5 linked regions of the Homo sapiens genome follow. The protein of the gene in region 3 interacts with the protein of the main gene of each other region in a pairwise test. Each region holds a gene or a part of one and is shown on either strand. Other genes may lie near its edges.

Evidence for each region.
Region 1: the proteins of ALKBH4 (region 3) and MTMR6 interact in a two-hybrid assay, tested with the Homo sapiens proteins (one study listed by BioGRID and IntAct).
Region 2: the proteins of ALKBH4 (region 3) and ZFHX3 interact in a two-hybrid assay, tested with the Homo sapiens proteins (one study listed by BioGRID and IntAct).
Region 4: the proteins of ALKBH4 (region 3) and TXNL4B interact in binary tests that used the Homo sapiens proteins (3 or more experiments, as listed by UniProt).
Region 5: the proteins of ALKBH4 (region 3) and TES interact in a two-hybrid assay, tested with the Homo sapiens proteins (one study listed by BioGRID and IntAct).

What each region holds. Positions count from the first base shown.
Region 1 is NC_000013.11:25,275,607-25,281,827, forward strand, and holds part of MTMR6 (phosphatidylinositol-3,5-bisphosphate 3-phosphatase MTMR6), read right to left. Parts: intron 1-6,221. UniProt on the Homo sapiens protein: Lipid phosphatase that specifically dephosphorylates the D-3 position of phosphatidylinositol 3-phosphate and phosphatidylinositol 3,5-bisphosphate, generating phosphatidylinositol and phosphatidylinositol 5-phosphate.
Region 2 is NC_000016.10:72,795,349-72,801,569, forward strand, and holds part of ZFHX3 (zinc finger homeobox protein 3), read right to left. Parts: intron 4,782-6,221; coding exon 4,679-4,781; intron 3,367-4,678; coding exon 1-3,366.
Region 3 is NC_000007.14:102,453,951-102,459,734, forward strand, and holds the end of ALKBH4 (alpha-ketoglutarate-dependent dioxygenase alkB homolog 4), read right to left. Parts: coding exon 5,654-5,784; intron 4,032-5,653; coding exon 3,444-4,031; 3' UTR 2,288-3,443; downstream 1-2,287. UniProt on the Homo sapiens protein: Dioxygenase that mediates demethylation of actin monomethylated at 'Lys-84' (K84me1), thereby acting as a regulator of actomyosin-processes.
Region 4 is NC_000016.10:72,082,478-72,088,330, forward strand, and holds the end of TXNL4B (thioredoxin-like protein 4B), read right to left. Parts: intron 4,326-5,853; coding exon 4,160-4,325; 3' UTR 2,699-4,159; coding exon of another isoform or gene 2,629-2,698; 3' UTR 2,380-2,628; downstream 1-2,379. UniProt on the Homo sapiens protein: Essential role in pre-mRNA splicing. Required in cell cycle progression for S/G(2) transition.
Region 5 is NC_000007.14:116,237,994-116,244,214, reverse strand, and holds part of TES (testin), read right to left. Parts: exon of another isoform or gene 5,883-6,221; intron 5,201-5,882; exon of another isoform or gene 4,966-5,200; intron 374-4,965; exon of another isoform or gene 279-373; intron 1-278. UniProt on the Homo sapiens protein: Scaffold protein that may play a role in cell adhesion, cell spreading and in the reorganization of the actin cytoskeleton. Plays a role in the regulation of cell proliferation. May act as a tumor suppressor. Inhibits tumor cell growth.

The sequences.
Region 1 (6,221 bases), on a different chromosome or scaffold from region 3:
ATCCCAGCACTTTGGGAGGCTAAGGCAGGGGAATCATGAGGTCAGGAGTTCAAGACCAGCCTGCCCAACATGGTGAAACCCCGTCTCTATCAAAAATACAAAAAATTAGCTAGGTGTAGTGGCGGGCGCCTATAATCCTAGCTACTCGGGAGGCTGAGGCAGGAGAATCACTTGAATCTGGGGGTCAGAGGTTGCGGTGAGCCAAGATTGCACCACTGCACTCCCGCCTGGGCAACAAGAGCGAAACTCCGTCTCAAAAAAGAAGGGAGGGGAGGGGAGGGGAGGGGAGAGGAGGGGAGGGGAGAGGAGGGGAGGGGAGAGGAAGGCTTTCTACTTAAAAACCTGAATAAAGATTTCTCTTAGAGGTCAACATTTATTTCACTGTTTAGGACTATTTCTCCCTTAAATAAAAATCTAGCTTCATTTTACAACACACTGCAAATCCAAACTTAAACACCTTTTAAGACAAATGGGATCAACTACTGTTTACTCCTCTTCATTGTGCGTGACTTGGCTGGAAAGGGCACTGTGGCCAACCACCACCGAGCAATTATTGCAATATAGATCTCACCTGTCTTTTTGGGTGGAGCCACAGAGCCAAACCATATCATTTCCTAAGCTATTAAAACAAAGTTTTTAAGGCTCTAACAAGAAGACAGTTGATGAATATATATGGAAATAAAGGTTACCACAAAGTATCAACACTACTCAAGCAAATAATTTGTGTCCACATCATTCAGTAGAGTTTCAAATAGCTTCTCAGAAAAAATTAAAAAGTCTACTGGCAAGTAGTTTAAAAGTGGGGAGGGGCTGATTTTATTACTATTTAAATAGGAAGTTTGCTTTAAAAAGAAATCCATGTGAAATTTTAAATTTGTGGATTTTTTGAAGATCATAAATATTCCTGGTTGTGCTCCAATTATAAACCTCAAGTTGTAACTTCTCTATGAGGCACAAGTATCTACAAAGCTTCTATACATGCAAAACAATCACACCGCTTTTCATTTGGATTTTATTCCTCTTCTGTCCATCCCCTGTTCACTATTACTCTTCCTCAGGGGTCCATTCTCTATAGGAATCTTACCTACTGTCATTATGTTAGCCTATATTTTAATGACTCCCAAAACTGTATGTCCAGCTCTGCTGTCTCCTGAGTTCACACTGTCTGCTACACAGATAATATTTCCTGACATACTAGTGAGGTCTCACTATGTGCCTAGTGCTGTGATAAGTGCTTACCATACATTATTTCTTTTAATTTTCACAACTCCTGTGTAGTATGTACTAGTACTGTCCCCACAGAAACTGGGACTTGGTGAGGTTGGTTAGTCATCTCAAAGTCATACAGCTAGAAGCAGCTAGTGGTATAGCTTAGTCATAAACCTATGTGATCTGATTCCCAAGCCAAAACACCTTCCCACTATGCTATACTGCCTCCACTTAGATGTGTTTGAGCCGTGTTATACATACTGAACGCAAAACTGATTTCCCCTCTCACCCCTCACAAATACATTTCTAATTCTGTATTTTGGATGTGAGTTAATGTTACTCCTCCATCCTTATCAAGTCACCCACACTGGAAATCCGTGAATGATCCTATGACTTCTTCTCAACCCCCAACATTCAATCAATCACCAATTCCTACCATTTTTATCACCTAAATATTTTTAAATCTGCCCCTTTCACCACTATTAAAGTAATTCCTAAATTATAATGAAAGCCTCTGTTCATGTATCTGTCTTTTCCACTAAAGACTAACATAGCCCAGGGCAAAGACTGTCTTTCATTTATGCATGAATATCTCCTAACGGTTAGTAGAGTGTCTGACACAATAAATGTTTGTTGAACTAAGATGAACGGCCACAGAAAAATTATTCCCCCAGGTGAAAACCAGAAGGTGTGCCCAATTTACCAGTGATCCCTTTTGTTGAAATCATTTGATTTATTAAATAAGATTCTTCTTTATCCCATTATACTTTTCCTCATCTCTCTGCTATCTTTTCCCTACACAGTGGGTGAACAGTAGGTATTCATTCAGTAATTCTTGAATAAACCAGCAACAAACTAAAAGCAAATAGAAAACTACTAGTAGAACACATAGGTATAGTTCAGTTTTTGGTTTTGGGTTTTTTTTCTGTGTGTAGTACATGTCTGGACTTTCAATCCTCTATCCCCACTCCATCATTCGATTAGAATAAAATCACTCCTCTAGAACTGTATAGTTCTTTCTGGCTGGGTCTCTTATCAAGGTGGGAAATTTGTGGTGAAAATGCTCTTTCCAACACTCTAAGCCTATTTCCTGACTCCCCTTAGTTTTATATGCAAAATAATCTGAAATTCTCTTTGTTAGATCTTTAATTTTGGTCAGCTATACAGGATTCAAATCCTAGCTGTTCATATGAATCACCTCTAAAACTTTGCAAAAGTACAAATCCAAAGCCTCACCCCAACTTCACTCAGTTATCTGAGGAGATGGAGACTAAGAATCCGTATTTTTCATAAGTTCACCTGCTCATCTTATGCAACTGACATTTCTTCTAACTTTAACTCCAAATTAATTCCTCTGACTCTTAACACACATGAGGCTAGCTTCCTTCTCTACCTTTAGGCTCTTTTCCCAAATATTAACAGCCTCAGCTTATCTATTTCTCCCACATTTTAAAGGAGCTTATTACAACTTTGATCCTTTAAAATGCACAACTGCTACCGGGTGTGGTGGCTCACGCCTGTAATCTCAGCACTTTGGGAGGCAGAGGTAAGGCAATCACTTGAGCCCAAGAGTTTGAGACCAGCCTGGCCAACATGGCGAAACCCTGCTTTACTAAACATATAAAAATTAGCAGCCGGGCGCAGCTTGCAATCCCAGCACTTTGGGAGGCCAAGGAGGGTGGATCACCTCAGGTCAGGAGTTCGAAACCAGCCTGGCCAACATGGTGAAACCCTGTCTCTACTAAAAATACAAAAATTAGCTGGGCAGGCACCTGTAATCCCAGCTACTCGGGAGGCTGAGGCAGGAGAATCGCTTGAACCCAGGAGGTGGAGGTTGCAGTGAGCCGAAATTGCATCACTGCACTCCAGCCTGGGCACAAGAGCAAGACTCTGCAAAAAAAAAAAAAAAAAAAAAAAAAATCAGCTGGGCATCGTGGTGCACACCTGTAATCCCAGCTACTTAGGAGGCTGAGGCATGAGAATCACTTGAACCCTGGAGGCAGAGGTTGCACAGAGCAGAGGCTGAGTCATTGCACTCCAGCTTGAGTGACAGAGCGAGACTCTGTCATAAAATAAAATAAAACAGATGCACAACTCCATTACATGCACGCACACACTCAAACACACATACATCTTTGAAGAACATGTAGATAAATATATACTATCAGGAAAGAGTTTACTAATTCACTCAACAAAAATGTACTGGCTATCAACTAAGGGCCAATCTATCTGTATCTCATTTCTTTATCTCTAAAATAAGGACAATAATCTCTTTTCAGAAAGCTACTGAAAGGTTGGATAATAAATGTCAGGTACTGATATGGTTTGGCTCTGTGTCCCCGTCCAAATTTCATCTTGGATTGTAATCCCCATGTGTGCAGGAAGTGACCTGGTGGGAGGTGATTGGATCATGGGGGTGGTTTCCCCCATGCTGTTCTCTCTTCACAGTGAGTCCTCATGAGTTCTAATGGTTTTAAAGTGGGACACTTTCCCCCTTTGCTCTCTCTCTCTCCTGCCACCATGAGAAGACGTGTCTTGCTTCCCTTCACCTTCCACCAAGATTGTAAGTTTCCTGAGGCCTCTCCAGCCATGTGGAACTTGAGTCAATTAAACCTCTTTCCTCTATAAATTACCCAGTCTTGAGTTGTTCTTTATAGCAGTGTGAAAATGGACTAATACAGGTACTTTATTTGCCTAATAAATATAAGCAATAATATTTGTGCTCAAGTAAATATTTGCAAAACTACTGTAGTTAGTAATCTAGTCAAGTAGGTAGAGCCCTGACAGTCCTCTATGTCAAGCTACTATCCAGATAAGTTCAAATGGAGAAAGGAAGAAGGATGCGTATGGAGTTTAAAAGGCAAATTCCATATTTTAAGGTGCTCCATAGTTGGAAGAAACTACTGTAAATGATGAAAGCACAGATCAGCAAAATGTTCTTCACTAATGGGAATAGGGAAAATACAAAATTCTCAACAGAGGAAATATAACATTTATGTCTCAATAGCAGAGGTTTATCTGATGAAAAAAAAACCATATGTTAAGGTACAAAATCTGTGCTGTAGATTAAAAAAGATACAGAGGTTTTTAAGCACAGTAGTCCATTAGGAAATATGGCTTGTAAGATCATTCCAGTGTGAATGTGGAGAAAATGCTGAGTTGATTAAGGGCAACCAGGTAAGAAGCTAATGAAGCCATCTAAGTGACTGGCTGATATAATTAGGGCCTGGAGTAAGCTGTGACAGAGAGGAAGTCCATCTTGAGATAATAACAAAACTGATAACGGAAGGAAGAAAGGAGGAAAAACAGAGATTCCTTAAGGGTTTTAAGCTTGTCACACTGGTTGCCATTCACTAAGATAAAGTAGTACAGAGAAGAAAATGTCTGAAAGGAATGTCTTTAATATAACAAACTGAGGACTATCTTAGCATAAACCAACTTATATTCAAATCTATATAACAGAAAATCATTACATACAACTGCTTCAATGGGTAATCTCCATATGAATGTGACAGATAGTGAAATTAATCTGAAATCATTCCACAACATTTATTTAGTATTTACACTAAAGTTCTCAAGAAAATAAGAGAATTTCTGAGAAAATACACTGATTATTTTGCTCTTTGTGGCAAATCCCACCCCTCACCCCTAAGGAGGGGAAATCAAATGTTTTTCTTTGCTAAAATCATTGGCATACAAATTTCAAACCACAGACTTAGTCAACTTCTAAAAACCAACTGCTTCTTTATATTTCCCCCTTTCAGCAAGGAACTAAAAGTATTTTACAGATGTTGCTACAGATTTTCCCCAGTCTGTTCTTGGAAATGTATTAAGTCAGATGTTTAGGAAGCAACTACAATTCTTTCTGGTCACTAACACTGAAGTACTAAGAAACTATTAGGATCCTTAAATTATAGGTATCATCACAGCCAAAAAGTAAATGAAAAAAAAGAAAAAAAGACTTTGGGAAAAGAAAGAACAAACGAAAAACGAAAATGTGGCAAGGAGAAAGGAATTGGAAGATGTCGCTTTGGTGAGGAATGGTAAATGCCAACACACATTACTTTAAGGACTATTTAGTTGAATTGTTGCCAACTATGGGCCTGCACTAAAAGGTACCCTAATGGTCCAGGCAGAAAGTTCAAATTTCAGCCAATTATAAAATTAGAACTGGAAAACACAGAGAACCCCACACATACAGAATCACACTCAGAAAATGTTGGGGCCACTACAGGTGTAGTAGCTTACGCTTGTAATCCCAACACTTTGGGAGGCCAAGGCAGGAGGATTGCTTGAGACCAGGAGTCTGAGAACCAGTCTGAGCAACATAGTGACACCCTCATCTCTACAGAAAAAGAAAATTATTTTCTAATTAGCCAGGCATGGTGGCATGCTCCTGCAGACCCAGCTACTTGGGAGGTAAAGGCAGGAGGATCGTTTGAGCCCAGGAGGTAGAGGCTGCAATGAGTTATGATCATACCACTGCACTCCAGCCTAGGTGACAGAGCAAGATCTTGTTGGAAAGGAAAGGAGAAAGACAGGAGAAAGGACAAAGAAGAAAGGAGAAAGGAAAGGGGAAAGAGAAAAGAGGAAAGGAAAAGGAAGGAAAGGAAGAGAAAAGAAAAAAAAGAAGAAAAGATTCCAAATGAAAAACACAGGGAGTCACACAAACAGAATCACATTCAGAAAATTCAGACACCTCTTTATCCCTGAGGAAAAAGTGGCCTCTGGGACAGGAAGGGACCAATGGCCTTCTTCAGACTTCTGTGACCAACAGTTGTACTTATTCTACAACTACATAACAATAGACGCTGTGGCTACTGAAGCAGAAAGTGCACCATCACTGTTCCTCTGGCTTGTCGCACTCCTTCCCTATAGCCAGGCACTCATCTAGGACTCTCAGAATCATTTCACACTGACATCCTGCCAAGAATTAGCTTTCAAAAAGAAAGCACATCAAGTTGTGTGCAGGAAGTGGAGGGCAGAGATTATGGTTTCTGTTCATGTATCCC
Region 2 (6,221 bases), on a different chromosome or scaffold from region 3:
CTTGGGTTTGGTTTGGCTGTGCACTGGGAGCTTCCGCCAGCTTTGGTTTCTCATCGCCTGCCTCTGTTTTTGAATTGAAGGTGGCCAGTTCCTCAGCCTCCGCTGTAAGCTGCAAGAAAGCGGAGGAAGCTGTATTATTGGCTGATGGTGCTGGGGCGCTGTAAGCCTGTGAGGGCATCGGGGTACTGCAGGATGAGCTGGTAGGCGTCAGGATTTCCATGGCATCCATGGAATCCTCATTTTGGCTGTCGTCCTGCCCCTCCTCATCCTCATCCTTGTAACACAGCTTCTTCTGGTGCTTGATGAGATCAAAGATGCGCTGAAACACCAGGCTACATTTTTTGCACTGGTAGTTCAAGTTGCTTGTTCGAATGTATCTATCATTTGTAAGCTCACGCCGCTCTCCATCTTTGCCCTCTCCCTGATTCTCATAATTCTTCCTGGCCTTCTGTCGGGCATTCTGAAACCACACCACTATCACTCGGGTTGGAAGGTTCAGTAAATTAGAGAGTTGCTCAAATTCATCATCCTTTGGGTAAGCATTGGCATCGAAGAAGTCCTGTAAGACCCTCAGCTGGTAGTCCGTAAACCTTGTTCTTGAAGACCTCTTGCTTCCCCAGTACTCCTGCTTTGGAGGTTCCGGCGAAGGGGGCCGGGAGTCAATCTTGAGCTCCTCCAGGCTGGTGATAGGAGGATTACTGAAGTTGTAAGGGGAGTCCTTGTTACGCTGCCTCTCTTTGAAGAGAGTGTTCCTGAACCAGTGCTTGATCACTTTCTGGGGCAACCCGGACTTGTCTGCCATCTCTTTTATTTGCTCTTCACTGGGGGAGTTGTTAATGTCAAAATATTGCCGCAAGACTCGGAGCTGATCATCTGTGATCCTGGTGCGAGGCCTCTTGTTCTGCTGCTGGAGCAGGGTTGGATTGAGCTGATGCTGGTAGAGTTGGGCCAGGTCCGCAGGCAGAGGCTCCACAGGTCCCAGCTGCGGGGGTAGCTGAGCCGGCAAGGTCTGCAGCGGCATCGTCTGCATCATCAGCGGCGAGAAGATGGGCAGCTCCATCGGCATGGAGAGCTGGGTGAGCGGCACTGATGGCTGGGCCGGTGCAATTGTAGGTGAGGTGATGGGTGGGGCTGATGCGGGGATGGCTGGTGTGGACGCCGGCTGAGGCGGCGCTGCCGGAAGTGGGGGTGGAGGGGGTGGAGGGGGAGGTGGTGGTGGCTCTGGGGTCTGGGGCCTCAGTGGGTACAGTTTATCGTAGTGGTCTCTGTACTGTTTGGCAAACCTCTCGAGCTGTTTGAAAGGAAAGTAATTCTGATGAACGTGCTCTTGATGACTCTTTAAAATCAAGATGTTGGAAAACAACTTGCCGCAGGAGTCACACTCGAGCTTTTCCAGGTTCTCTCCCTGGTCAGTCTTCCCATTCTTTTTCTGCACCTTCTGCTTGTTCTCATTATACTGGATGACCAACTCAAAGCCAAAGTTCTCCAGCAGGGCCTTGGTGGCGTTCCCTCTGGCATCTGAAGCAATGCGTGGAGGGAGCATGGAAGGCTCAGAACCACCCCCTGGTGCCAACTCTTTCTTCTCTTTGGCCTTCAAGGCATCTGGCAGTGTTTCCTTCGGACCGGTGTTGCCCTCTCCCCCCTCGGCGCTGTCCCTCTCTCTCTGGCTTTCTTTTTCCTTTTCTTTGATGACCAATTTGTTCTTCTTTTCGGGGTGCTGGCTTGGCTGAAGGAGGGCAGAGTGACTCTGGGCTATAGAGAGTTGGTTCTGCTGCTGCTGCGGCAAGATCTGCTGATGGCTCTGCTGTGGGACCTGAACCTGAGCCTTCAGATCTTCCAGCAGGCCTGGGCCTGTCCCAGTCAGTGTCAGTGCCCCACTGGTCACTGGCAAGCTCACCTCGGGGTTAAGCTGGAACTCAGCACTGGGGATGTAGAAAGGGAAGAGGAGGTGCTGCTGCTGCTGTAGTTGCAGCAGGGTCTCAGTTGTCATGGGGAAGTGAGGAAGGAGGGTGGGGTTAAACAGCTGAGACTGGATCAGGGCAGCCTGTTGCTGCAGCTCCTGCTGCAGGTGAGCTTGAACTTGAGCCTGGGCCTGGGCCAGCGTTTGTGCTTGTTGTTGTTGTTGTTGTTGTTGTTGTTGCTGTTGCTGCTGCTGTTGTTGCTGCTGCCTGGATGCAATCATATCTGCCAGTTTCTTCCGATTGGCCTCTTTGGGCTCTGAAGGGGAAGCAATGTTGGCACCAATAGGATTCCCCAGGGGTGGCATCCCTACACTCTCAGTGGGCACTTGGCTTAGTAAGTTAGAGCTTGGAGCAATGCCAGCACTGCTTGGATTGGAGGTGGTAAAGGTGTTACTGCCACTGGTGCTCACAGGACTTGGCGTGGAGGAGCTCAAGGAAATACTGCTGCTGTTCCCAGTCCCATTGCTGCTGCCACTTGCAGCCTCCAGCTTGGCTGCCCGGGCCTTGGTTTGATGTAACACAGACCTCATATGGATCTCCAGAGTGGAACTCTGGCTGTAGGCCACATTACAAGTGTTACACTTAAAAGGTTTGTTGTCTGGGCTGCTGGTGGGTTCTGGCTGACCGGTTGCTGATTCTTGAAGGGCTCTCTTTAACTTATGCAGGTGGGAGACAGAATTGTAGTGTACTAGCAGGATATTCTTTTGAGTGAAAGATTCCTTGCAGACGGTACACTTGTAAGGGCGAGAAGGGTCTAGGAACTTTTCCATAGTAAAATTGGGACCTTTTCTGAAAGGCAGAGCTCTCTTTGGCTCTGAGCCCGAGTCTTCTTGTACTGACCCAGAGTCACTGCCCGTTGGGCTCTGTTTATCTTCCAAGTCACTCTCTTCCTCCTTGTCTTCCTCAACAATTATGGTATGGTCCTCTGCCAGAGTGGGGTCTCCCATTGCCAGGAGGTCCCCATTGGCCAGCAGGCCACCATAAAGCTGTTGGATGTCAGCCTCACTCAGCTCCAGGTGGCTTGTCTCAAGGTGCTTCTTCAGAGCCTGGAAAGTTCGGAAACTGCGCTGACAAAGACAGCACATGGTGGCAGCTCTGATCACATGGTACTGAGAATGGAGCTGCAACTTTTCAATGGTCTTGAAGGCCAGGCTACACTGATTACAGCGGTACTTGTACACATGGCGATCTGACACCGGCAGCTGAGGCCTCTTGGCATGCACTTCATTAAAATGCGTCTGAAGGGCAGCAGAAGTTTTGAAAACCTGGTTGCACCCCTTCTTCCAGCAGATGAAGCCTGAGTCTTCTCTCACAGAGCCTGGGTCAGCAGGGGATGGTTTCAAATCTCCGCTTTGCTCTGTGCTTGCGGATGGCAAGATGTTCTTTCCCAGATCCTCTGAGGTTTCTGTTAAAAAAAAAAAAAAAATCAAACCCAAAGATAAAGAAGGCTTTGTTTCAAGGATGGCACCCAGAGCGGTCTACCTAGTCAGGCCTCATGAACACAGAATCTGATGATGAGGGAAGTGCCCAACCTGAATGACAGAATCTCTGCGGAGCGCCTCCTGCTTTCTTTTGTTCCTCCAATAGAGCACATATTATAAACAGGGTGCACATGAACAGAGATGGATAAAAGGAAATACAAAAAGTTTCAATGCATAATAGACCCATGTCATATCACAGATCTAACAGTCTTTTAAATAGCATTTAATTGCTTGACTCAGAATCCTCAATTTCTCAAGAGCTGGTTTGAAGGTTACTGATCTTAGACTGGATTTCCCTTTTATGTTCATCTTTTATGTAATAAGCATTTAGCACAGTAGATCTGAAGTGTAGAATATGTGAATTAATGCTGTCCTAAGTTGTGAGGAATTTACAAGAACTGCTGAACATCGTAATATAAGAAATTTGGGGATACATATTTTTAGGCATTTAATTTCTTGTTATAATGTGACTTCTGATTGCCATCTCTATTCAATAAGCAATTAACATTCAAGTGTTCAATTATTTAAAATACATTTTTTTCCCTACAATGAGATCATCACACTCATAAATACCGAGACCCTTTAACAGGTCATTTGTCCATTGTCTAATATGGAAAACTCACAAGAAAGAGAGAAGGCAGGACAGTAGTGTGGCCAAACTCTTCCCAACTTAGAACTCTTCCCACCTTAGAGGTGAACGATGTAGGACAGCCTCACAGAGGTCTAACCATTCATCTAGCCAGGAAACACTATGTGGCACCAACTACTGTCTACAACAATGTTCTTTCCATCAGCATCTCTGTGCTTCATCCTAAGCCAATCCCAAAAAACTCAGAACGAAAGACAACTAATCCAGTGTACCTAAAAATCAACCCACAAGTCCCTACTAATTAAGTCCTCAGAAATACAGTGTTTAATGGCTTAGAATGGTAGGGCCTACTGACTGAGTCTCTGGTTATTCACTCCCTAATTGTATAGTTTAAGAAGATGTGTGTGTCTGTGCCAGAATTCCACTGGTTCTCATACTAATTTTCTCTCACTTTAAACCATGTGAGTAATATACAAATACATGCCAAGAAGCAGAGTATAAAGTAGCTGATGACAGTGCCCCTCATCTCCTGATCAGTTACATTCACCTTAAGAGTATTGTAAAGAATTCCTGAAAACCTTTCTCCATGAACATTTTGGCATTCCATCTTGTTTCAATTTCTTGGGGTCAAGAATAATGATACTGACCAGGCTGCTTTCCTGCCTCTTCCAAATTGGAATTCCCATCTCGATCTGGAACAGCTGCTGGGAGGAACATGCTGCTTGGCATCACCATCTCAGGGGTGGTCACCTGAGGAGCAAGAGCAAGGAGAGTCAAATGGAGAGGAAAGCGACACAAAATAGGAAATGTTTAAAAATTATTTAATAAGCAAAATTAGCCTTCACCAGTGTAAAGCTAGAGGTGTCTCACTTTTCATAGCTCACTGAAGATTCATGTTTATTAGACAAAGCTCACATCAGTCAAAAGTGTTTCTACGGTTACATTCTGGACATAATTAGCAGTGCACACTTGAAGAATAATCTTCTTATTAATATTTTTCCTTTATGCAGAATTTTGACTTTGATCACTGACAATGTTTTGTCATGGGCTGTGAAACTTCTTGTGCAACCAATTAGGTAGATAAGTTGAAAGGCCCACCTTAAGCTGCTGAAAACATAATAAGGGCCCTAATTAAATCATACCTAGTAAAGTACACTGTAATCTTGAAGCAGGGAGCATTGTAGTACTGTTTTCAGAACGTATTCAGGCAAGAGGAGGAGGGGAGTAAGAGTGAAGGAAAGGGTAAGAAGAAAAGAAGAGAACAAAGGGAAGGCTAGGGACACGCAGACATGCTGGCAGATTTTCCAGGAAAACAACATTTGTAACCCTTTACAAGCTGACATCAAGCACAAACAAGCCTTTTTTTGTGACTCACTTAAGCCACGATTTCTTCTGGAGTCTCTGCCCAAGGTATACAACATCAGAGGGAACTTCTGACCAACGTCCCAGCGATAGAGGGTGGCCTGCACAGCATTCTACAACAGGGCAGCCCCACCTTGACCATGGCCATTTTTTCTCAATACAGCAGTTCTGGAAATCGCCTGGATCCAAACAGCTGCAACTTTTGGGCAGAGCCTCAGATATTTCTCTAGGCCTCCCTGCCGTACGGCCAGAAGCCTGTCCAAACAAGTTATCATTTGCCTTATGTTAATGTGATAAGCAGCCCTCGATATCCAATGGAAAGATCAAAGGTTCTTCATTCAAAAAGAAGCAATATCCTTTTGCCTGATATGGGGTGGGAAGGGTAGGTGGCGATGATATTTCAAATGAATTAGAAACCACCTCCCATTTGATGATAGCTGGAGAAATGGACTGACCTAGAAGTTACAGGACCAGAAACTACAGTCACCACTAACCTTTCTACGTGGCACCCAGCCCCACTTGGAGACATTATTTTTCCATCAAACACAACCGTACTGCACAGACATCTTCACTGTCTGTTGCAAAGATTGGAATACGTAGATTTCTGTTCAAAATTAAATAATATTTTAAATACATTACTATTAATTTTTAATGGTGTGACGATCCCAGCCTTGCTCAAAATAGCTACTGAGATGTCCACTAGAATCATCAGCAATAAGCTTGACAACTAGAGGAAACCCAGACAGCCACCCCCATCAACATAGGATAACTCCTCATCACACTTAGGGGTATTAGAATAATTTCAGCAACCCAGATGCCAGCGGGTGC
Region 3 (5,784 bases):
ACTCCTGACCTCAAGTGATCCTCCTGCCTCAGCCTCCCAAAGTGCTGGGATTATAGGCGTGAGCCACCTCGTCCGGCCCAAGACTTTTTGCCTCAGATGCTGCAGAGCCCTGGTGGGGCCCAGGAGGGCAAGGCCCACACAGGAGCCGAAACCCATGTAGAACCTGCCAACCTGTAGCTCACACCTATAATCCCAGCACTTTGGGAGGCTGAGGTGGGCGGATCGCTTGAGCCAAGGAGTTCGAGACCAGCCTGGGCAACATTACGAGACCCTGTCTCTACAAAAATACAAAAATTACCCGGGCTTGGTGGCTCGTGCCTATAGTCCCAGCTACTGGGGAGGCTGAGGTGGGAGAATCATCTGAGCCCAGGGAGGTTGAGACTGCAGTGAGCCAAGATTGTGCCACTGCACTCCAGCCTGGGTAAAATGAGTGAGACCACGTCTCAACCCCTTTCACAGCCCGTCTGCGGCCCACCCACCCATGGGTACTGTGGGATGGGGGACAGGCTGGCTTAACACAAATCGAGGCAGGAATAACCCCAGAGAATGGGCTTTGCATGGAGCTTGGCTCCTGTCCCTGCCTGTGAGGGAGGACCAGACTCGGCCTCACCACCTGCCACTCTGAGCAAACAGGCAACGGTGTTTCCTGAACATCTTTCTGAAGCGGCTGAGGGATGTCAGCTGAGCCCCCGCTGGGCCTGCTCTGGAGCGGGATGTCTCCAGAAGCCGCCCTTGGAGCGGGCACTTCCCTATTTGGGCGTGTCCCAGTCCCATGCCTCACCATCCCCTTGCTTGAAGCTCCAAGAGCATGAGAGTGGGCAGCCTGGTCTGCTGAGGAAAGTGTCTGATGGATGCGGAAATGGCCACCCCAAACACCGGTAAGCAGATGTTACCCTGCAGGCGGTGGCTCCTGGGGCCCAGCCCTGCAGAAACACATGGGGCAGGCTGGGCAGAGGGGCTCACACCCGTTATTCCCAGCGCTTTGGGAGGCTGAGGCGGGAGGATCGCTTGAGCCCAGGAGTTTGAGACCAGCCTGGGCAACATAGCAAGACTCTATCTCCACTAAAAATCAAAACAAAACAATTAGCTGGGTATGGTGGCACACGCCTGTAGTTCCAGCTACTGGGGAGGCTGAGGGGGAGGATCACTTGAGCCCAGGAGTTCAAGGCTGCAGTGAGCCATGATTGCGCCACTGCACTCCAGCCTGGGCAACAGAGCAAGACCCTGCCCCGCCGCCTGAAAGAAAGAAAAAAGAAAGAGAAAGGAAGAGAAAGAAAGGAAAAGAAAAAGGAAACATACGAGGCTATGGGGCCGTGTACGGGGGCCAGGCTGTGGCAGAAGCATCCTGGCGTGGCCTTCTCCAGCCCCATCCTGGTTGGGTAAGGTGTCGCCGTGGGTCTTCGTGTCACAGCTTCAAGGACAGACCCAACTCTGGTATCACAAACTTAACAGGTAATGGAGTTTCCTAAAGTGTGCTCTGCAGGAGTGCTGGAAGGGCCAGCATGGAAGGACCCCAGGGAGGGAGATTTCTTTGCTCCACAGCATCCCCAAGCCTCACGAGGCCTCTCCCCTCCAAGTCTCTATGTGCATCGTTCTCCAGATGTTGGAGCATCCTGCAGGGGCCAGCCCAGCCTGTCAGGGGCAGAGACCCTGCACTGGCCCCCTCGAGAGTGGACCCCTGGGCTGGCTTATCTGCTCCAGTGCAGTGAGGATCAGCTGGAGCTCCGACCTGACTCACATCTGGATGCGCAGTGAGGGGCCCGTTGGGGCCGTGATACTGGGAGGAAGCCGGGCTCTGTGCTCTTGCTCCAAGTGAGTTGACCAGGGAGCCGAAGTTAAGGTGGCCTGGGAGCCACGTCCTCCCACCTAGCGGCTGGGCTCTCACAGCCACTAGAAACCCATCAGCCTTTCCCCTGGGTCTATGCGGGGCTCTTCAGCCCTCCTGGGAGCTCAGTGGCTGGGATGCTGCTTTACAGACAGTGCACGGCTCTGCCATCTGACAGCTCCCAGAGGGTTCTGGGGGTGACTGTAAAGAGTGGTGCTGGCCCCGAACCTTTCCTGTTCCCCTGGATTTAGTTCCCAGCAGGTGGTGAGGAACTGAACATTTTGTCCCATAGTGGTGGGAGAGAGGGCTGGCCACATGGGTCCAGGCCACCCCCTCAGCCTCCACAGCCTGCCCCGCACCCAGCCACAGGAACAGCAGAGCAGCTCCCCCATCCAGGTAAGCGCCCCCACCACAGCCCCATCACAAAGGAATAGCCTCCTGGTGTAGTGGGAGGTGAGGAGCTTTTTTTGTTTTCCTTTTATTTATTTTAGGGACAGGGTCTTGCTCTGTTGCCAAGTTAAGTGCAGTGGTATGATCATGAGCTCACTGCAGCCTTGACATGGTGGTAAAGCCATCCTCCCGCCTCAGCCTTTCGAGTAGCTGGGACTACAGGTGTGTGCCACCATGCCCAGACGCCCAGCTAATGTTTGTATTTTTTGTAGAGATGGGGGTCTCACTATGTTGCCCAGGCTGGCCTCAAGCAATCCTCCCACCTGAGCCCCGCAAAGTACTCGGATTACAGGTGTGAGTCACCGCGCCTGGCCGGGAGCTTTAATTTTTCCTACTTGTTAACAGCGTTATGGGGCTGGAAGGAGGCTCTCAGATTTCCCTGCCCTCCTCACATCCCCCAACCCTCCCTGGGCGTGGGGGTGTCAAGCATGAGTCAGGCTGAGCCTGACTCTGAAGCTGTTCCCAGCTCTTTAGTCTAAACTTCAAATCTTCAACCCTGTTCCCTAATCCAACACATTCCCCAAATGAAGGGACTGGACAGTGAGATATCGGGAAACCCCATGAAAATAGATGCATAATAAAGGTGAAAATCATTTAAAATGTTCCCATTTTTTTTTTTTTTCAAAACAGTCTTGCTCTGTCACCGAGGCTGGAGTGCAGTGGCGTGATCTTGGCTCACTGCAACCTCCGCCTCCCAGGTTCAAGCAATTCTCCCACCTTAGCCTCCCGAGTAGCTGGGATTACGGCTGTGAGTCACCACACCCGGCTAATTTTTGTAGTTTTTGTAGAGACGGGTTTTCACCGTGTTGGCCAGGCTGGTCTCGAACTCCTGGCATCAAGTGATCCGCCCACCTCAGCCTCCCAAAGTGTTAGGATTACAGGTGTGAGCCACTGTGCCCGGCCCCCAGTATTTTTTAAGCTCAAATGATCCCATGTCCCCAAGACTGTGACAAACTAAATAACCAAAAAAGTGTGGCCACGGTCCAGGTGGAAGGGGGCTGCCTGGAGGTACGTTCCCATCAAAACCTGCTCCTGGGCAGGGCTCACACTGCTCACAGCATCAGGGGTCAGCCATCTTCTCTTGAAACCCCGTGAGTTGCAGGAGGCCCTGTTCTGTGCTCCTCATTTCAATCCCGGGATCAGTCAAGTCTGGAGCCAAGGAGGCGGTTCACACGGGTCTTCCCTGGAAGGAGAGGGCGATCCGCAGCAGTTCCTGGCCCAGCTCTTGCTGCCTCCCTCCAGGGCCAAACTCAGCCGACAGCTCCCGGAAAGTGACGCAGACGCGGCGGGCCTCGATGTGTCTGCGGTGGATGGCATGCTTCCACTGGTGCCGTGCCGCCCCGGTGAGGACCAGCAGGGAGCGGGCGGGTAAGGGGATGGCCACCTCCACCTCCTGGCATAGCACCGACCGGCTGGGTGCTATCACGCTGTCCACCAAGGCCTCCGGGGCAGCCGACGGGGCCGAGCAGAGGAGCAGGCTCCCGGGCGCCTCCCGACACATGGACAGCACGGTGGGGGACAGGAGGTTGAGGCTGACCAGCCGCTCCCCCCACAGCCAGGCGTCGTCCAGGTGGGGGTCAATGGCAGAGCCCCGCTCGGGGCAGTAGTCCAGGTTGCACTGCTCGACGGGCCGGAAGCCCTCCAGCCCCGGGTAGAGGCCCATCCTCCGCACCACCTCCCGGCTGAAGCTGGGGAGGCCGCAGAAGCCCTCGGTCTTTAGCTTCTGTTTCCGAAAGTTGACTTTGGGGCCATAGTCCTGAAGGATGAAGACAAAGAGGACATGAGGTGTCTGAGTTTACGAAGATGTCTACCACAGACTAGGTGGGAAGAATTCAGTCATAGTGACCCAGGCAAGCAAAAGCCCCCTGGCTTCATGGAGGTGAAGCAGGAGGAGGCAGACTCAAGGAGACAGAAGTGACAGCAAATGGCCGGGCATGGTGGTGCATGCCTGTAATCCCAGCGCTTTGGAAGGCTGAGGCGGAGGGAGCTCTTGAGGCCAGGAGTTTGAGACCAGTCTGGGCAACAAAGTGAGACCTCCTCTCTACAAGAAATTTAAAAATTAGGCTGGGCATGGTGGCTCACGCCTATCATCCTAACACTTTGGGAGGCCCAGGCAGGTGGATCGTTTGAGCCCAGGAGTTCCAGACCAGCCTGGGCAACACAGCAAAACTCTGTCTCTAGTAACAAAACAAAAATTAGACAGATGTGGTGGCACAGGCCTTAGTTCCAGCTACTTAGGAGGCTGAGGTGAGAGGACTGTTGGAGCTCAGGAGGTTGAGGCTGCGGTGAGTGGAGACTGAGCCACCGTACTCCAGCTTGGGAGACAGAATGAGACACCCTGTCTCAAAATAATAATAATAATAATTATCTGGGCTTGGTGGCACATGCCTTAGTTTCAGCTACTCAGGAGGCTGAGGTAGGAGGATCGCTAGAGCCTGGGGGGTCAAGGCTGCGGTGAGCCAATATCACATATTGCACTCCAGTCTGGGCGACAGAGCGAGACCCTGTCTCAAAAAAAAAAAAAAAACCTGTACACAAATGTTCACAACAGCCAAAAAGTGACAACAACGCCAATGTCCATCGACAGATGAATGAGGAAATGAAATGTACCAACATCCAACAGGATGTCACAAAAGAATGGGGCTGGGCGCGGTGGCTCACGCCTGTAATCCCAGCACTTTGGGAGGCTGAGGCGGGCGGATCACTTGTCAGGAGTTCGAGACCAGCCTGGTCAACATGGTGAAACCCCGTCTCCACTAACAGTACAAGAATTAGCTGGGCATGGTGGTGGGCACCTGTAGTCCCAGCTACTTGGGAGGCTGAGCCAGAAGAATGGCTTGAACCCGGGAAGCAGAGGTTGCAGTGAGTTCAGGTCATGCCACTGTACTCCAGCCTGGGTGGCAGAGCGAGACTCTGTCTCAAAAAAAAAAAAAAAAAAAACCTACAATGAAGGGAGAGGGGGCACCCGGGGATGTTTGGACACAGGTGGGGAAGGAGTTGGAGGGAGCGGCGGGCCCGGGGAGGGGGAAGGTGGGAATGCGTGTGAGGAGACAGGACACGGATGGTGACAATGGGAGGTGGGGGCGCCTGCAGCTTGGGAGAATGGGGTGCCTTCACCACCACCAAGCCAGCTACAGAGGGGCAGAGAGCCCAGGAGCGCATATCACAGGGAGATGGGGTGCCCAGGTGCACCTCTGCCCATCGGACACACGTCCTGCAGCGAGTCTGGCTGCCCACAGCCCCAAGGTCTGGGGAACTCGCCCACTACCAACCCTGGAGGTTTGAGGGGTGTGGCTGCAAGGAGGGGGATGGCCCCCAGCAGTAGGGCTGTCTCCTCAGCGCAGCCCAGCAACCCCCATGAGCTCAGGGCCGGTCTACCTGCTTCCTCCGTCCAGACTGGGAGAGCTTCCAGGGGTCACGGTCCATGAGCCGCACCAACTCGGCTTCTTCCTCCCGGGTCACAAAGTCCTCGATCAGCATCACTCCTGGGAAGGGGAAGGCCCAGCCCT
Region 4 (5,853 bases), on a different chromosome or scaffold from region 3:
ACCGTGCCCAGCCCGCATTTCATTGTTAATGTAACCAGGTCAGCCTCCCCTCAAGCTGTTGTGTTTGATGCTTGCCTAGTCATACCTTGCAGAGACCTACAAAGTCAAAGGCAACTAGCCTCTTCAGAAAAGTATCTTTGCCCTTGGTACTCACCCCACCCTCAATCTGATCCTTGCAAGATTCCCTATAATTGGCTACCTTGCCATTCCTGGTACGATATTCTCTGGACCACTCAGTCCCAAGGCTGGACTTCTTCAGCAGGCTGCACCTCCCTAAAACCTTATATCCATTTTACTAAACAAAATAACTCCTCTAACTGCCAACACCTCCGATGTAACCTGGTGCATATTTCTATTACTACTTCAACCTCCACTAACCATATTCCCACCCTAAGTCGCTTTTATGGTATGGGGCAGATGTTAGCGGGAAAGACCCCATAGGGTCCTTTGAGATTCGTTTTGTCGCCCCTCCAGCACCCCTTCCTTCCCGAAGATCTCCTCCAAATGAAACAACTATCTTGCCACTACCTAATGACAAAACTAAAGTGCACATAGTGGAAGTCAAAGACCTAAAACAAACCCTGGCCATCGAGACCGGACACCAAGAAATGAATGCCTGGCTGAAATGGATCAAATATTCAGTTTGCACTTTAAATAAAAGCGACTGTTATGCCTGTGCAATGGGCAGGCCAGAAATCCAAATAGTTCCCTTCCTGCTTGGATGGTCTAACCAACCGGGCATGGACTGTACAGTAGCTCTCTTCCAGCACCCCACAGCCTGGGGTAATAAGTCATGCACCAGTCTCTCACTGCTTTTCCCAAAAGTCAAAGACTTCCCTGTGGGTCAGCCCCCAAGGGCCATCTGGCTCCTGGCCTCTGATGCCAATTTTACCTCTTGTCTCTCATGACGGGGAAAACTTACATCTTTCAGGAATCTAACGGGATGCAGTGAATCCGAGCCTTTTCGAGAGCTCACCAATCAGACTGCCCTTGTCTATCCACAAGCAGATGTTTGGTGGTATTGTGGAGGACCTCTACTGGGTATGCTGCCAAATAATTGGAGCAGCACTTGCACTCTAATCCAACTGGCCATCTCTTTCACCCTGGCATTTCATCAGTCCGACAAAAAGTCACCCTCTTGGGAAGAAAGAGAAGCTCCTCAAGGGTCTTTTGACCCCCATGTCTATATAGAGGCAATTGGAGTACCACGAGTAGCCGCCAATGAATTTAAAGCTCGAAATCAAATAGCTGCCAGGTTTGAGTCAGTCTTATTTTGGTGGTCTACTATAAACAAAAACGTAGACTGGATAAACTATATATATTACAATCAACAAGGATTTGTTAATTATACCAGAGATACCATTTGGGGATAGCCGAGCAATTTGGTCCCACCAGCCAAATGGCCTGGGAAAACAGGATAGCTCTTGACATGACATTAGCAGAAAACGGCAGAGTTTGTGTAATCATCAGAGCCCAATGTTGTACTTTGATCCCAAATAACACAGCTCCCGATGGAACCACTACCAAGGCTCTACAAGGCCTCACCACCCTAGCAAATGAGCTGGCTGAAAATTCTGGAATAGATGACCCCTTCACAGGTTTAACCAAAAGATGGTTTGGTAAATGGAAAGGACTTATGGCCTCTATCCTCACTTCCCTTGCCATTGTTACAAGTGCACTCATCCTTGTAGGCTGTTGCATCACACCTTGTGTTTGTGGGTTAGTTCAAAGACTCATAGAAATGGCTTGCACTAAAACCTTCTCTGTCTCTCCCCCTCCATATTCAGACCAACTTTTACTCCTAGACAATCAAGAAGAGCAACAAAGCCAAATCTTACTAAAATAATTTGAAGAGGAAGAATTATAACAACAAAAAGGGGGAAATTGTCAGAATAAAAGAAAGGTTCCTCTTCAAAGATCCAACTTTCTTGTCATAGGCTGTAAACCGCCTTGCTCCAAACCTTAACCTGTAACCTTTACCCTCTGCCTTATTTGAGAAAGATTCAAGCGCATAGCCAATTGGAGTCAGCCTAGACTGTGCGGTCCAACCCCAGCCAATGGGGGAAAGACAAAGAAGCAGGAACTGCGTTAGGGTTAGAAACCTGTTCTCCTTTGTTAGGTGTGCTTTTGCGACTGCTATAGGCGCGGGCAGCACCCTTCTGCAGAAGTAAACTTTGCCTTGCTGAGAAACTTTTCTTCTGAGTGCTCCTCTTCCTCTGCGGCACTCAGAAATAAGAGAACTTATTTCTAACAGGAGGAAGAAGACATGATAATTTTGCACACGCAGGTTCTGAGTTTTGGCTGGTGCGCTGAGTGCTTACCATACCGCAAATACTGTGTGATCTGGGCTGAAGAACAGAAAACCCAACTAACAGTGACTTAGGCAAAAAGAAATTTTATTCTTTCACAGAAGTCTGAGGCAGGCAGGTCCAGAGTTCATGCAGGAGCTCAATAACATCAGAGATTGGGCTCTTTTTGTTCTTCTTAGCATATCGATGTTTTACGTGATGCTGGGCACCTCGGGGACCTAAGATGGCTGTTGTAGCTCCATGCATCATGATTAAACCAGAGACAGGAAGTGTACGATGGAAGAGGCCAGAGGTGATGGCCTCCTCCTCTCCTTTTGTCTTATTCCTGGAGTGACTCCCTCCTCTTATCAGCAGGGATACAAGCAGTGCCTGGCAGCCTTCCCTCTCTCCTGTATGAGCCAAAAGCAAGACTCATGGCACCCCTCCCTGCAGGAAAGGGGTGGAATGGAGCCCCTGGCAAAGGGGGCTGGACTTGCAGTGACAGTGCTGCTCTGAACAGGACTAGGCTTCTGTTGGAGAGGTGGTCAGCGGCTGCTAGGCAGGTCACAAGCTGCCTCACCCATGGCTCTCCAGCTCTGCACCTACCCTCTCCTTCTAATAAATCTGTTTCAATAACCACCACGAGGTTTAAAGAGGAGCAGTAACTTGCCCACGGTTGCGCCAGGCACCCCTAGAAGAGCAAGAATTCCTTACAAAGTTATTAAAACAGGCAAATCCCATATAGGTGACATTTCTATCCAACAATGCTGACATCTCTTTTAGTTTTGAGCCTTAGTAATCCAATTTTCTGCCTCAGGAAGAGGCAGCAGCTTCTGGGAAAAATCTGCTCCTGCTAAGGTGGCTCATTCATTGTTTTACCTGAATAGAGTGGTGGATGGTGAAGGTTCAAATTCTCACTTTCCATATTAAATTTTATAACATAAAAAATAATTAAATGGGGTGCGCGCGGTGGCTCACGCCTATAATCCCAGCACCTGGGAGGCTGAGGAGGGCAGATCACGAGGTCAGGAGATCGAGACCATCTTGGCTAACACGGTGAAACTGCGCCTCTATAAAAATACAAAAAATTAGCTGGGCATGGTGGCGGGCGCCTGTAGTCCCAGCTACTCAGGAGGCTGAAGCAGGAAAATGGCATGAACCCAGGAGGTGGAGCTTGCAGTGAGCCGAGATCGCGCCACTGCACTCCAGCCTGGGTGACAAGAGTGACTCGGTCTCAAAAAAAAAAAAAAAAATTAAATGAGCCAACCAGGACAATGTTTAAAAGCCAGAGCCAAAAAGGCTCCAAAATAAAACAAACTTGTCTGCTCAATTAATTATTTGAAGAGAACCTACAGTAATACAGACTGGAGATGGGAAAGCACGAGGGATGTATGAGTCGAGGAACCGGCAAAGGGGTGTGGGGGTGTGTGTGTGTGTGTGTGTGCACACACATGCACCCAGCTAGGGTAGAAAATAAGTACTTTTGCTTCTATGGGAAGTGACTTTCCAGTTCACTTGTGTATCAAATGAACATGATGAAATCAAGTTGTACTAGCCAATGTTTGGGAGGGTTCTGTATTAAAGGGATAAAGAAAAACATTAGAAAGAGAAGTTACAAAAATCACTGTGGGGAAAATGAACACCAATGACTTGGCTGCTCTGAGGCTTGCAGGGAGTAGACAGTTAGGCATCCCAGGTCATCAGAGAACCAGTGGGGTCTTTTCCTCAGGGGCCGGGTTTTCTACACGCAAGTCAAACCTCTTCTCCTCTGGGACACATGTTTCCAAAGGACTCCAGAAACACAGCACAGCTGGATTCAGGTACTGTGTCAAGATGTGCCTTCTTCTTCATCTTTGACAGCAATTAATGTACTAAATGTCTTGATAGAGAAGGTCATATTTGGGAATATTCTTGGGATCAATAGGACTTTGGACAATAAGCTTCCCCCTCATTGCTCCTCGATAGATTACTTCAATCAAATCTATGAAGTCTTGTTTGGTTTTGAAGCTTCCCACAAACTTAGTGTGATCTGGAGATCTAGACAGCATAGAAGAGAAACAACTGCTCTAAGAACTTTGAGTAATCACTTGTTGAAGACTTTCAGGATAAACAAAATGAAAAACAGCTTTGTTATTTTCTTCTTGTCAATGAGACTTCAGAAATAAAGCCCAACATTAATTTTTCAATCATTTTTTTCCATTTAGTAAATGACTCAACCCAGTGCTGTGGGCCACTAGCATGAAAGCTCTGTCATGTGCAAAGCTTTAGCTTCAAAAGCTATTGTAATCACAAAATCTATTTTTATCACTTCTCAAATCATCAAGCAGATTTCACCAAGTGTTGGAGTGCACATTGTTTCTTCGTTTGCTGTTGTTGCTTTTGCCTGGGCATTGTGCAAAGCCCATTCAATATTCATGGCCTTTTGAGTGGTAGGTATTAAAAAATTGATTTTTTAGAAAAGTATCTCAAACACCAGGTATGTTACTGTAAAAATTTTAAAGAAATAAATAAAATCACGGATGAGGCCAGAGGTCACTTTTCAGTGTCTATCCTTCCAATCTTGTGTGTGTGTGTGTGTGTGTGTGTGTGTGTGTGTGTGTGTGTATGTGCAGATACAAACTTCTTTTTTCCCAACATTGGGAATTATGTCATACAAATTATTCAGTAATATGCTTTTTTCTAGCTGACATATATTTCTTTCATTTGTTAAATGTGCATCTGCAACATCATATTAAAGTCCTGGAAGTGTAATTACTGGGTTAAAAAGTTTAAAAACTTTAAACTATTTGATACATAATGTTGAACTGGCCCCCATAAAAGGTTGTACCAAATTAATACTTACATCAAATGTGTTCCAGTAGAATAAACAGCTTTAAAATACTTTTGTGTTTTTTTTTTGTTGTTGTTGTTGTTGTTTTGCGATGGAGCCTTGCTCTGTCACCAGACTGGAGTGTAGTGGTGCGTTCTCTGCTCACTGCAACCTCCACCTCCTGGGCTCAAGCGAATCTCCTGCCTCAGCCTCCTGAGTAGTTGGGATTACAGGCACCCACCATCATGCCTGGCTAATCTTTTTTTTGAGACGGCAGCTCTGTTGCCCAGGATGGAGTGCAGTGGCGCGCTCTCGGCTCACTGCAAGCTCCGCCTCCTGGGTTCATGCCATTTTTCTGCCTCAGCCTCCAGAGTAGCCGGGACTACATGCGCCCGCCACCACGCCCAGCTAATTTTTTGTATTTTTAGTAGAGACAGGGTTTCACTGTGTTAGCCAGGATGGTCTCGATCTGCTGACCTCATAATCTGCCTGCCTCGGCTTCCCAAAGTGCTGGGATTACACGCGTGAGCCACTGCGCCTGGCCATGCCTGGCTAATTTTTGTATTTTTAGTAGAGATGGGGTTTCACTATGTTGGCCATGCTGGTTTTGAACTCCTGACCTCAAATGATCCGCCTGCCTTGGCCTCCCAAAGTGCTGGGATTACAGGCGTGAGCCACTATGCCCAGCCTAAAACACTTTAAAACAGATAATATTTCACATACTTTCAAATAAAGACAAAAAGGGTACACAGATCT
Region 5 (6,221 bases), about 14 Mb from region 3:
TTAAGACTTTGGGGGACTGTTGGAAGGGCATAATTGTGTTTTGAAATGTGAGGACATGAGATTTGGGAGGGGCTGGGGCAGAATGATATGGTTTGGCTGTGTCCCCACCCAAATCTCATCTTGAATTGTATTTCCCATAATCCCCACGTGTTGTGGGAGGGACATGGTGGGAGGTAACTGAATCATGGGGCCTGTTACCCTCATGCTGTTCTCGTGATGGTGAGTGAGTTCTCATGAGAGCTAATGGTTTTATAAGGGGCTTTTCTCCCTTTTGCTAGGCACTTCTTGCTGCCACCATGTGAAGAAGGATGTGTTTGCTTCCTCTTTTGCCACAATTGTAAGTTTCCTGAGGACTTCCCAGCCATGCTGAACTGTGAGTCAATTAAAGCTCTTTCCTTTATAAATTACCCAGTCTTGGGTATGTCTTGACTAACTGAGAGCAGACTAATACACTCAGTCTCTTGAAAAATAAAACCAAGTTTCTGGGATGAGTAAATTAGTAGAATGAATATAATTTATTAAGATAGTATATTCAAAAGATGAACAGTTTTGCAGTATGGAGTGGGGAAGGTTGATGGAAGTCTCCAAAATGAAACCACTGATAAATTTGATATGCCTGTGAGACAAGGTAAAGATATCACAGAGTGTAGGATCTATAACTCTCATGTTAAAAACTGTAGCCTGGTAGGAAATATAAATTTGGTGGTCAGGGAACAATATATAATGAATATGAGTTAAAGAGATCATCTGTGCCTGTTGGCAAAAATGTAGAGGGAAAAAGTAAGGACTCAAGAAAGAGTCTAGTAGAGGAAAAGAAGCTGGAAAAGGTGACAGAGAAAAACAGAGGAGTAGGGAGTGGTGTTAAAAATTTAAGCTGGAAGCAATATACATGGCAACGACAACATAACAATAAGAGTGGCGATCTGAGTGTTGTAAAACACATTCTAAAGATACTTACATTGTTCAGTCTATATAAACATGGATTAACATTAGATACAATTAGGCTAAGAATGCATGTTGAAGTAACTAGATAACTAAATAATTTATAGTTTAAAACACTCAAATTAGAAAAAAGGAAAAAATAAAGTACTAAGTGTTCAACTCAGGAAGTTAGGAAAAAGGCATAATAAGCCTGAAGTAAAAGGAAGGAAAATAAAGAGAATAGCAGAAACTAGTAAAAGGAAATAGAAACTATTCTAGAAAGAGTTCCTAGAGGATGAGGCATGGGGGGAACAAACCCAGACACTCAGCATAGATCATACTTACTGCATTAGTTTTAAGATGTGAAGCAAGAAAGCAACCTTGCTATCACCAATTCTAATCATATGGTTCTGAAGGTACTAATCAGAGCAGTGTGAAAAGTTACAAGAATTCATCAGAAAGAAAAAAACTAAACTGTTGCTATTCACAGATGCTATGACCACAGAGAAATGCAATGTATTAATTAGCATTAAGAAGAATTTACTAAGTTTTCTAAATTTAAAATTAATATAAATCATGGAATTTATCTACATCAGAAACAGAAAAAACAACTAAAAACCCAAATGTATCTCATTGCCAAATAATACATTATTAATTATAGATTTTAGTTTGTTGTATTCTGAATTTTCTTAAAATACTTTTCAGTATGCAAACTGAAAATATTAGATTTGACTTGTATATTCCGAGACAGAGACAGAGAGAGAGAGAGAGAGAGAGAGAGAGAGATAGGTGGTGAAGAGGCAAATTGCTTTCCTTGTGCACACTAGTCAGAAATCTTTATTTGGTAAGAATTTGTTGAAGAATTTGCATATGCTAGTTCAGCTATAAAATAATCTTTCTAACATCTGGTTATCTCATACTCCCATCTAGTGGAAAGCAGCAAGTTATCCTACTACAGCATGTTCTTTACTTTTACTCTTTGGTTAACAAAAACAATGTAATTATTTATAAAACTATCACACTGCTTTTGGTTCAAGTTTAAAATTATACCTTCCTGAGGGGGGAAGAAGGTGGAGTGGGAATTTAGTTCTTAATATAGCTAAATAGATCCTTATATGGCTGTGAGCTACAGCATGCATCCCAATAATTAGCAAAGTGGTATCTTAAAGGATCGAGGCCGTATAATAAACACTGGACTTTGGAAATTTTTACAATCTATGTTCTACACCAGTACAACATGAATACCACAAAATAAGGGTCAGATTTTAGAATCTGAAAGATAAATAATAAAAGATACAAGTGAAATAAAGCCTGATGATTTCTGAAGCATGAATAAACTATGGTGAGCTGTGGCTTGGTTAAAAAAGTTATATTTACTGTGAAAGTGTTAAATATAAAGAGTTAAATTTACTAATTATAGAAGAACCAGCTCTGTATTTTTTTAAATTATTATTTGTCTTGACAATTAGAAGAATTCACAATCTCAGGAAGCCTCTGCTTTTCTATCAATGCCTTTAACCACCCAACATACCTTTGTTAATAAGTGAGTAAAATCAGGTTAAAACAACATACCAATAACGCTAGTGGTAAGAAAAAAGAAATACCTAAGAAGTCATACTATGCCATATAATTTTCAGTTTCCTAAGTAGAGAAAACCTATGATTGATTTGTTATAATTTTAAAAATCATGACTATATTAAAAGCCTCATCTGCATCCTCCAATGTGGTGAATTGTGGTGACAGAGTCCTTGGTAAGAATGTGACCCAAGAAGGGTGGGATGGCTCTTCAACTAGAGCTGTCATCATTAAAACAGTTGGGATGACCACATCCCTTCCAGAAGCCTTACACTGGAGCTCCATTTCTACAAGGAGAAGAGCCAGCTACAAACTACTCTGCAAGAAAACATACTATAAAATCAGCACCAGGTGCCAGGAGCTATCTATTGTGGAAATCTGTGCTATTACCACTTACCTAGTTTTAGGTTTTAAAAATATTTTTCTTAGAGTTCTAATCTACAGTGTTTTATATTTGAGTCTCCCACATTTAAACTAAAACATTTTACTTTTAGAAATACCTATAAAAACTTTCAAAGTCATTTGGAAGCAATCCAATACATTTATTAAAAGAAAAACCTTGTTGTGGAATTGGAGAAGAAAAGGATGCCACTGTGATCTTGTTATCCAAGAGCGGCCTGAGAATAAGTGGGACGTTTATCACATATTCAATTTCAGCCTAAACTAACCCAGATTCTACCCTTAAGAAAATGAAGAACTTTAAAAACGTGGTTTTATACAAACCTAAAACAAAAACACAAACAGAGTATGGGTGAGCACAATACCCATGTGCAAGGGGCTGTTTGCACGGTGTGTGGATTATCTTTCATCAGATGATCCATAAGTAACTTCTGATGATATATATAGATTTAAACAGCTTGTTTATTTATTTGTGCTATACTGAGTTGATAGTTTTAAGAGAGTATATAAATCAGTTCCCATATTTAACACAGTTTTCAAACCTCTAAATTTTCTAAACTGTCCTATTGAGCAGTTCTCTCTCCAGATTCTCCATAGGATGTTAAGAAAAGTTCTATGGGGAAAAAAAGGGAAGGGGATTCAGAATTAAGTTAGTTTAAAAGTCTTTTTCATGATTCTTTTAAAAAGGTGCAAAGGTGGATTGGCAGATTGGGAAGCTCTAAGGTGTGGGGATGGAGGAGGGTTATTTGTATAAAAAGTTGTTTGTACAAAAAGAATTTAGCACCATTAACACATATATATGCAAACATTAATATGTATGGAGGAAAGGGAGGAGCGAGGGGGAGGGAAGGAGTGAGAGAGAGAGAAAGAGCGAGCCTGGGAGAGCGAATGCAAGAACAAAACTACCAAAAGTATTGCCTCAGACAAATAAACATATTTACATTTTCAAGCTGAAAAAAATCAAGAAACTATCCTTTATTCTCCCAAAAGAAATTTTTTTGTATCACTATTTGTAAAACTTACTATTTTTCCAAGGCAAGCAGTAGAAACTAGAGTGCTTTGACATGCTGCCAGCATTCACAGTGATTTAAAAGCACGGCCATGGCATTGCTACAAACCATAATTTAAAAGGGTTGGAAGCTGCCCTTTTGTAACAGGGATATACATATATGGATTTAAGTGTGGGCCTCTGTGACAGAATTCAACACAAGTATTAATCCATTTATGGTAGGGAATTTTTAGTTTTCACCCAGCTCTAAATCAATCAGAAATTCTGAACAGATGTATGTTATAATCAAGTAACGCATTTTTAATAAAATGCAACTGTTTTATTAGGAGACTTTAACAAAGGTAAAGCAAAACAATAATTCTGTTACTTAATATGATAAATGACATGGTTGCAATTATATTAATTATACCTTCAATGTGAAATAACTGGCTATAAACTCCTGGAAACCTTGGGTCTGTGTCATACATTTCAATAAACACTCTTTATCTCTATATATTACTTGAAAGCATTCCCAGCAGATAGTGTTTCTTATTGGGTCATTATTAGGCTTCCTGAACCTTTTATTTTCCTCTACTGTTGTAATCATGGGCACACTGAAAAAGGAGAGAGCTCACAGTAAAAGTACACCTTTGTCCACAAGGATGTCTGTGTCACAACAATCACACTTCAGAGGCGACAGCCTGGTGCAGTTCAAAGTTCACTGGCCCTGAGAGTGAAAAATGTGCATTCTAATATCTACTCTGCCATGGAGAAAGGTTTTGGAAAACTCTGAGTTCAAATTCAGCTCTGCCATCTATAAGCCATAACTTTAGTAAGTTATTTAACTTTCCTACGTCTTTGATTTCTCATACATAATAAAATAAATATTAGGAGGATTAGGTACAATCAGGTACATACAGTGCTGTGGTAAGCAGAATGTTAACATGGCCCCTATGACTTCTGTCCCCTGGTGTTACTTTCATGATTATGTTACTTTTATATGGCAAATGGGAGATTTTCCAGGCGTGCCTACTCTAATCATGTGAGCCCTTAAAAAGCAATGAATTTTCTCTGGCTCGCAGCAGAAGAGGAAGTTGGAGGCATGTGAGGTGCAGGAAGGATTCTAAGCAGTGGTGCTGGCTTTGAAGATGGAAGGCATTGTACCTCAATGAATGTGACTGGTTTCTAGAAGCTGAGAGTAGCCAGCCCCCAGCTGACAGCCAACAAGGAAACAGGGACCTTGGTTCTCCAACCACAGAAAATAGATTCTACCAACAAGAATGAGCTTGAAAGCAGATTCTTCCCTCGCACTTAAAGGTGAGTACTTTTAGCCTGGCCAACACCTTCATTTCAGCTTTTTGAGGTGCTAAGCATAGACAGCTAAGCCAGCTCCCCTATCCCAGACTTCTAACCTGAAAAATAATGGATGTTGGCTGGGCACAGTGGCTCATGTCTGTAATCCCAGCACTTTGGGAGGCTGAGGCTGGTGGATCTGCTGAGGTCAGGGGTTTGAGACCAGCCTGGCCAACATGGTGAAACCCCGTCTCTACTAAAAATAGAAAAAATTAGCTGGGCGTGGTGGCGGGCGCCTGTAATCCCAGATACTCGGGAGGCAGGCAGGAGAATCACTTGAACCTAGGAGGCAGAGGTTGCAGTGAGCCGAGATCGCACCATTGCACTCCAGCCTGGGCAACAAGGGTGAAACCCCATCTCAAAAATAATAATAATAATAATAATAATAATAATGATGGATGTTGAGTTAACAGTTGTTGCTTTAACTTGCAAAGTTTGTAGTAATTTGTTATGCAGCAGTAGAAAATTATTACAAGTGCTTACTGGTGTGTGACACATAGAAATCATTCACAAATTATATTATTAATAACTCATGGGCTCAAACAAGTCATTTTAACTTCCTTTGGTTTAGGTCTTTGATCTGTAAAATGAGGTTAGACTAGTTAAGTTACAAGTTCACTCTAAATTCCTAATAATTAATTTTTAGTCTCCTGCAACTATGGTGATACACCTTGATCCGGCATCTTCCATTCACCTCTCCAGATTCATTCTCCATGCCTCAGTACTCTGTGCTATTTCCCAGAAGGCTGATCCTTAAGGACTACACCTGTGGGATCCCTTGTCACTGGCAATGGGACAATGGGAGGTGCCAGCAGAAAATCAGAGTGATGAAGAATGAGGTCTGGGTATTTATCTCCTGGCTTTCTGTAAGTATACAAGGTGATAAAAAGGAAAATGATTCCTAACAACTTGGGGGTATGTGGAAGCAGGGGAAGGGGGTGCTGTGGGCTGAACTGTGTTTCCTCAAAGTCATATGCTGAAGCTC